3 separate regions of the Homo sapiens genome follow, and all the other regions are linked to region 1. Evidence: fine-mapped expression QTL. A gene starts in region 1. Each other region holds a variant in brackets. All regions are shown on one strand. Distances are between the middles of the regions.

Region 1 (2,760 bases):
AGCGTCCCCTCCCCAAAGAGCCTAGACCTGAGGCCGCCTCTTCCCCCGCACAAGTATCCACACTCCCCACCTGCTACTGGGTACGGGCGGGTGAAGCGCTCCGACCCTTGGCCCCTGAGCCAGCAGCGGCCGCAGAGCGCTGAGAGGGGACCAGCGGGACTGGCCGCCCGCCCTGCTCGGGCCCCCTCCTCTCGCTTGCCTTTCTCCTTGCTCGCTGCCTCCGGGCTGCTCCAGCGGGGGCCGGACAGGGCAGCGGCCGCTCTCCGCGACGCCCTCGCGCCCCGCATGCACACCTCCGCGGGCCCCCACACCTGCGGCGCCGCCACAAAGTTCCGGTGAGCGGCGTGCGCTCGGAACTGGGGTGCGCCCCGGCCAGACTCGGAGCAGCTCCCCAGCCCGGCCCCGCTCCACGTACCCCCGCCCCGCCCGGGGCCCGCGGAGCCGAGCGGAGGGGGCGAAGGGACGGGGGAGGAGCTCCCCTGGGCCGCCGCACCCCCGCGGCCTCGTCCTCCTTCTCGGCCGCGCCGCCTCCTCGCTCGCCGCGGCCCCCCGGCCCGCTCGCCCAGTTGCTGCCGCACGCCCCACCCCCGGAACCTCGCCTCCTTCCGCGCCCCCAACCGCTCTCCCCCGAAACTTTCCGCCAAGATGGCGGCCCCCGAGCTGGCCTGCCGCGCTCCCACGTGACCGCTTTCCCGGCGCTCTCAGCCAATGGGAAGTGAGGAGGCGGCTCGCGCCGAGCCCCGGGCTCCCCGCGCTGCTACCTTCGGGTTGGAAGGGGGAGGCGGGTCGGGGGAGGGCAGGGGAACGGAAGGGGTACCCGGGGAGCATCCTAAGGGAACCTCTTCGCTTAAAAGGGCGGCCGCTGAAGTGGCTCTGAGAACAAAGGAGTTAACACTCGGACTCCACAGGTGGCCCGGGGTGGCCCTGGAGGAGCCCGCCTTTACCTTGCCCTAGCCCACCGGCGCGTCCCGCAGTTCCGAACTAAACGCGCCAGGCCGGGAAGGCTCGGGCTGTCTGAAGAGAGGCGTGACCTCGCCTACACCAGATCCAAGGCGCACATACCGAGACACCCCTCAACCTCACTCAGCAGTGCCGTTTCCAACTCCGCGGCAGAGACAGCGCCTGGCGACCCCGGGGGTAGATCCCCACCGGGGAAAAGCCGCCTTAAGGAGGAGCCAACTGCACCTCCCAGGGGGCGGGGAGGGCGGGGCCTGGGAGAGGGAGAGGGAGGAGTTCGGGGAGGGGTGCCAACTCTGCATTGCCTTCCACTCCAGGCTGATTGTTAAGTTACTCTTCGTCCCTTAGTAATAGGCTTGGGGGGAGGGGTTTCATTACAGAAGGACATATGAAATAGAGACACTGGTTAACTTGGCAAGAGTTTGAGGGTTATAGTACAAGATTTTTAAGCCTAACTGATTAATTCCGAGTATGGTATACTTAAGGGTGGGCAGAGAAGGTTTGTTCATTCATTCGCTCATTCATTCATTCATTCATTTCCCTCAAGCCTGCGTCCCCGCCCGGTCAGCATCGCAGGTGTTACCCAAACTCTGACGGTCCCTTTAAGAACTCACCCGGAGTCGCGCCCTCCGAAGCTGAGCCGCCCTCGGCCAGCGCTGCAGGTTTGTTTCGTGCGCACCTCCGGGCGGAATTACCGGCCGGCTGGGACCCCGCTCCCGGTCTGAGCCACCCAGGTTATAGAAGGGGAATCTCGGGAAGCTTTCCAAGTCACTGCCCACGTCTTCGAACTTCCTCGGGGTGACGAGGACCTCCCTATTAGGAGGTCCAGAGAGAATTTGCCCAAAGTTACCCCGAGTGAGTGACAGAACTGGAAACCCGGAGATCCTGTCTTTCAAAACCGGAAGGCTCTTCCCAGTAAACCTGACGGCCTCTGACTGAGGCCGTATCCATTGGCTACCAAAGGGAAGGCCGAGGAACCTCGTATTGTAACCTTAACAGCTACTCAGAGGTATACTGACCACTGGTTTTACTTTTGGATTGCACCTTAGAATCCTAACTTACTGTAAGGACCCACCGACTTTAGAACCTATCTAGGACAAGGAACCGAGGTCCGGAAAAAGGGAAGCAACTTGTCCAAGGACATAGACGCTAATCAGTAACAGAGCAGCCGAGAACTCAGGTCTCCTAGCTCTAGTCCAGGGCTCTTTCTCTTGTGATTTTGGACAACTTGACAGAGAGGTATGTTGGTATGTTGGCAGCAGACCTCTGTGCTTTCCCGGATCAAGCATCCTGGGATCTTGAACAACAGTTAAAGCAACATTGCATAGAGAAAATGGGATAGAAGGGTCAAACGGTGCTGAAGGCAGAGGTGTCCTAACAGCCGGGAACTTAACAGAGGGACGGAATTTATTTAGTAGTGAAAGTGGCTCATGACAGGCATCATACTCTCAAGACTTCGCTGATGGACTGTGAATGGGATGGTTGCAGTAAGAAACCATTCTAACAATGGAATCTCTTCAGAATTCAGAAGAAACAGGGAGGGAAATTTGCCCTCTCCCTTGATAACATTTATTGTTCATATATGTTCACTTGCTAGGAAACGGGGATAGAAATAAATAAGATCCGAGTCCTGCTCTCAAGGATACACAGCCTTGTAGCAAGTACACAAAGGCCAATGCACCTTTTCCCAGGGGACACTGAGGAGTCAAAAACAAAATTTGTGTGAGTTCTCAATGTCATCCTAGCCTTCCCCTAAAAGCAAAAAGGAGGAAGGGGAGGAAAGAGGACGTGTCCTTTTTTCTT
Region 2 (2,760 bases), 180 kb after region 1:
AAGGTCAGTCTTGCCAGGTGCAGTGGCTCATGCTTGTAATCCCAGCACTTTGGGAGGCTGAGGCGGGTGGATCACCTGAGGTCAGGAGTTTGAGACCAGCCTGGCCAACATGGAAACTTTGTCTCTACTAAAAATACAAAAACTAGCCAGGTGTGGTGGTGGGTACCTGTGATTCCAGCTACTCGGGAGGCTGAGGCAGGAGAATTGCTTGAACCTGGGAGGCGGAGGTTGCAGTGAGCCGAGGCTGTGCCACTGCACTCCAGCCTGGGCGACAGAGCAAGACTCAGTCTCAAAAGAAAAAAAAAAAAGGTTGGGGTGGGGGTAGTCTTGAAGGAGGAGCTATTAAGACTCAAAGAAAGGCATTCTAATGATGGAATTATGGACACTGGGGTTGAAGGGGGTAATGTCAATCCAGATTTGCAGAGAGAGGAAAAGAGAGAGGGAGAGCGTGAGCATGTTGGGTGGGAAGGGATTGCTGCTGTCTTTTGCTGCCTTGTCTTCTCACGCCTCCTCTTCCTTCTGCCCTTGCCTCGACCCAAGCTTTTCTCTGCCTGGCTGTGCTGTGACATGCTTTTTTTTCCACTTGTACATTCTGTTTCCCAAGGTGTTTCATCCCAGAGAAACACCTGCTCCCTCTGAAGGAGGTTGCCTGAATTATAAATGAGCCTCCAACAGAGAACATGTGCTCTTTTCCTTCTTTTTCAGAAGAAAAAGGCCCAGACAAGTGTCTACTGAATTTCCTTGTTTTTCAGAAGGAAAAGAGAAAAAGAGGTAAACAAGTGGCCAGAATGTTTCTCTGAGCATCCCAGGACGATGCAAACCTCACTTCCCTTTACCTCAGACCCCTGGTTTGAATCCTGAAGCCAACCTCAGGGGGGTTGTCACTCATTCTGACCACCAATACTTTTGTGTGTTCTGGGCCTCCCCAGCCCTGTTCCTTGCCCTCCCTCTTCCTCTGTGTGGGTGTGCCCTCCTTCTCCCCTGTCTCTACATGTCCAAATACTATGTATTCAAGACTCAGAACAAAATGCTAGCTCCTCCAGGAAGCCTTCCTGGGTTCTCGAATTGGACATGATCTCTCCATCCTCAGTCCTTTTCCTTCCTAATTTCCCTGCCTCCTACGAGTGGGACTCTGGCCAATTTCCCTTAGTCAGTCAGGTAAAAGGCCCTGCTCGTGGTAGCTGGTCAGGAAATAAAGAAGAAAGGCAGGAAGGGTGGAAAGAAGGGGAGAAGGGAGACTCTACGGGCCCAGACAAGTGTCTACTGAATTCAGAACATGGCAGGGTCAGCAGACGATTTTCCTTTCTTCTCCTTTGTGTGCACTTCTGGGGCTGCTAATGACAAGTCACAGCACAGAGTGTGAAATCTGCCGCTCTCCCAGGGGGCTCCGTCTCAGGTCATTCTCCTCACTGCTTCCCACTCCCTCACTGAAAAGCCTGCATCCAAAGCCCATTACTGGCTCCAGGGTGTGGACCTTGCAGGGAAGAACTGTGTAAGGACAAGACAAAGAGCAGGGCTGAGTGCCGAGTGCCCGGTCAGTGGGGAGGGGGATGTGCTGTGGGATGAGGAGCCCCTGGTTCCTCATCTCCTGGTTTTATCCTCGTCCTCCCCGCCCAGCGAACACCCTCCTCACCCTAACCGTCTATCTTGTTGTTTCCTGTGAGTTTGGTGT[C/T]CTCTCCTTCCATTAAAGCTTCCATTAAACCTCTCTGAGGTTCAAGTCTCTGGTGGCCAGACCTATTGTCTTACACATTTAGACAATGCTCTTCTGCTCATGGGCAGCCATCAAATATATGTGTTGACTTATAAAAGATATACCATCTCTTTTTTTTTTTTTTTGAGACAGTCTATATGTGTTGAGTTATTAAAGATAGACTTTTTTTTTTTTTTTTTTTTTTTTGAGACAGAGCCTCGTCTGTCACCCAGGCTGGAGTGCAGTTGCACGATCTTGGCTCACTGAACCTCCACCTCGCAGGTTTAAGTGATTCTCCTGCCTCAGCCTCCTGAGTAGCTGGGACTACAGGTGCCCACTACCATGCCCAGATACTTTTTGTATTTTTAGTAGAGACGGGGTTTCACCATGTTGGCCAGGCTGGTCTTGAACTCCTGACCTCAAGTGATCCACCCACCTTGGCCTCCCAAAGTGCTGGGATTACAGGCGTGAGCCACTGCGTCCAGCCTATAAACCATTTCTTAATCCAAAGAGCTTGAAGTGCAAGGAGACCCTCCCCTGAAGGCAGGGCTGTCTCCTGGAGACATGGGTGAGGCATATTGGGGATTCAAGTGGCCGAGTCTTCTGCTTCATGCTGCCCAGGCATCCTGGAGAGCTGCCGGATGAAATAGAAGACACCCAGATAAATTTGAATTTCGGGTAAACAATGAAAGTAGTATACGTTTATCCCATGCAATATTTGGGACATACTCATACAAAAAATTATTCATCATTTATCTGAAATTCATTTTAAGTGGATATCCTGTTTTTTGTTTGTTTGTTTGTTTGTTTTTGAGACAGGGTCTCCCTCTGTCACCCAGTCTGGAGTGCAGTGGTGCAATAATGTTTCACTATAGCCCCGACCTCCCAGGCTCAAGTGATCCTCCCACCTTAGTCTCCTGAGTAGCTGGGACTACAGGTTTGCACTACCATACCTGGCTAATTTTGTTTATTTTTTGTAGAGACAAAGTCTCACTATATTGCCCAGGCTGGTCTCAAACTCCTGGACTCAAGCAATCCTCCCATCTCAGCCTCCCAAAGTGCTGCAATTA
Region 3 (2,760 bases), 48 kb before region 1:
AAACAAAAACCATGATTATTTCAATAGATGCCAAAAAAGCACTTGATAAAATTCAATATACCTTTGTGATAAAAACCGGTAACAAACTGTTACAGATGAAACATAGCTCAAAATTAAAAGGGCCATATATAATAAACCCACAGCTAACATCATACTGAATGGGGAAAAATTGAAGGTCTTTCCTCTAAGGTCTGGACCAAGACAAAAATGCCTACTTTCACCGCTTTTATTTCATATAGTACTGGAAAAGCAGTGAAGTAAAACAAAGAAATAAAGGGCACCAAAATTGAAAAGGAAGAAGTCAAATTAGCCTTGTTTACAGATGGCATGATCTCATACCTAGAAAAACCTAAAGACTTCACCAAAAAAAACTGTAAGAACTGATACATATGCTTAGTAAAGCTGCAGGATCCAAAATCAACATGAAAAATCAATAGCATTATATATACCAACAGTGAACAATCTGAAAAGAAATTTAAAAAGCACCGGGCACGGCGGCTCATGCCTGTAATCCCAGCACTTTGGGAGGCCGAGGCAGGTGAATCACGAGGTCAGGAGTTCGAGACCAGCCTGGCCAACATTGTGAAACCCCAGGTCTACTAAAAATACAAAAAATTAGCTGGGCGTCATGGTGGGCACCTGTAATCCCAGCTACTCAGGAGGCTGAGGCAGGGGAATCAGTTGAACCTGCAAGACAGAGGTTGCAGTGAGCCGAGATCATGCCACTGCACTCCAGCCCTGGCGACAGAGTGAGACTCCGTCTCAAAAAAAAAAAAAGAAAAAGAAAAAGAGAAGAAAGAAATTTAAAAAGCAATCACATTTATAATAGCTACAAAGAATATAAAGTGTATGGGAATCAATTGAACCAAAGAAGTTAAAGATCTATACAGGAAAACTATAAAACACTAACTAAAGAAAATGAACTCACACGTGTCATTCCAGCACTTTGGGAGGCTGAGGTGGCAGATCACTTGAAGTCAGGAGATCAAGACCAGCCTGGACAACATAGTGAAACCCTGTCTCTACCAAAAATACAAACATTAGCCAGGCGCAGTGGCAGGTGCCTGTAATCCCAACTACTCAGGAGGCTGTGAAGAGAACCTGGGAGGTAAAGGTTGCAGTGAGCCAAGATCATGCCACTGCACTCCAGCCTGGGCAACAGAGCAAGACTCCAT[C/CAA]AAAAAAAAAAAAAAAAAAAAGGAAATTGAATAGGACCCCCAAAATGGAAAGCTATTCCATGCTCATGAAGTGGAGGAATACTGTAAAAATAACAATACTAAACAAAGTAATCTACAGATTCAGGGACAGGCACGGTGGCTCATGCCTGTAACCCCAGCATTTGGGAGGCCGAGGTGGGTGGACTGCTTGACTACAGCCTGGACAACATGGTGAAACCCAGTCTCTACAAAAACAAACAAAAAAACAAATAAATAAAATACAGACTCTAGGCAATGCCTATCAAATTACCAATGACATTCTTCACAGAAAAAGAAATAGAAAAAAAACCCTAAAAATTATATGGAACCACAAAAGACCCCAAATGGTCAAGGCAAAGAACAAAGCTGGAGGCATCACGCTACTTGACTTCAAATTTACTACAAAGCTACAGTAACCAAATAAGCACGGTACTGGAATAAAAACAGACACACAGAAAAGAAAAAAGAATCCAGGTATAAATTCATGCATTTATAGCCAACTCATCTTCAACAAAGATGCCAAGAACATATAATGGGGAAAGGACAGTCTCTTTAATAAATGATGCTGGGAACACTGGATATCCATATGCATAAGAATGAATGAATGAATGATTTTTTGAGGTTAAGACCTCAAAACCACAGGCAACCAAAGCTAAAAAAGACAAATGAGATTACATCAAGCTAAAAAGCTTCTGCACAGCAAAAAAACACAATCAACAAAGTGAAGAGAAAACTCACAGAATGGGAGAAAATATTTCCAAACTACCCGTCTGACAAGGGATTAATAACCAGGATATATTAAGAGCTTAAACAACTTAATAGCAAAAAAACAAATAATCATATTTTAAAATGGGCACATTTAAAATGGGCAAATGATCTGAACAGACATTTCTCAATAGACCTGTCGAGTGTGGGAAACAATGCCCAGTACATGGTAAGATTCACTAATTGTTAGAAGATCTTTTTGATAATTTTTATGAAACAGTAAAATATGTAGGTTCCTGGCTGTACAGAACAGTCTTTTCTGAATCATTCTTTCTCTTTTCCCTCTTTTATAGTTCTTGTTCCTTGCTTTTTATGACTAGTGTGCTAGTTGTCTCTCCTTATGAGAGGTGGTGGATGGTTTAAGTACAGGTCTATCATCGAGACAAGCTGGAGGTAGGAATAAAAGGAATATGAAAGGGAGGAGATTTAAAGATGCTTCTACCCATTTCTTTTTCTACTTTATAAACCTCTTCTTTTACTGCTTTTACTTTGGATTTTAAAAGCAGTGTCTCAAAGAGATTATACTGTTTTCATAGCAATATTATTCACAATAGCTAAAATATGGAAACAAAGTATCCATTAACGAAATAATGGATACGAAAAATGTGGTATAGACATATAATAGAATATTATTCAGCTTTAAAAGGGTAGGAAATTTTGACATATACTATAACATGGCTGAAACTTGAGGACATGATGCTGAGTGAACCAAGCCAGTCACAAGAAGACAAATACCATCTGACTATACTTTTATGTGGTACTTACGGTAGTTAAAATCAGAGAAACAAAGTAGAATGATGGC

The links. PIP is the estimated chance that this variant, and not a neighbour inherited with it, causes the effect. A credible set is the group of variants that fine-mapping cannot tell apart.
Region 2: its variant is the best candidate, but not a certain one, in a credible set for the expression of DLG1 in whole blood (TOPMed, PIP 0.50).
Region 3: its variant is the best candidate, but not a certain one, in a credible set for the expression of DLG1 in whole blood (INTERVAL, PIP 0.87).

The regions. Positions count from the first base shown.
Region 1 is chr3:197,297,474-197,300,233 of GRCh38, forward strand. It overlaps DLG1 (discs large MAGUK scaffold protein 1), which reads right to left and starts at 1,139. Exons shown (of 25, transcript NM_001366207.1): 1 at 1,063-1,139. It overlaps DLG1-AS1 (DLG1 antisense RNA 1), which reads left to right and starts at 774. Exons shown (of 3, transcript NR_038289.1): 1 at 774-1,137; 2 at 1,505-1,619. RefSeq lists silencers at 66-695, 1,186-1,315.
Region 2 is chr3:197,475,176-197,477,935 of GRCh38, forward strand. No RefSeq gene overlaps it. Among named protein-coding and RNA genes, the nearest start is that of LINC02012, 33 kb to the right of the region's middle. The variant C/T (reference allele first, on the strand shown) is at 1,673.
Region 3 is chr3:197,249,805-197,252,564 of GRCh38, forward strand. The region is part of intron 4 of DLG1 (discs large MAGUK scaffold protein 1); the gene reads right to left. Among named protein-coding and RNA genes, the nearest start is that of MIR4797, 43 kb to the right of the region's middle. The variant C/CAA (reference allele first, on the strand shown) is at 1,176.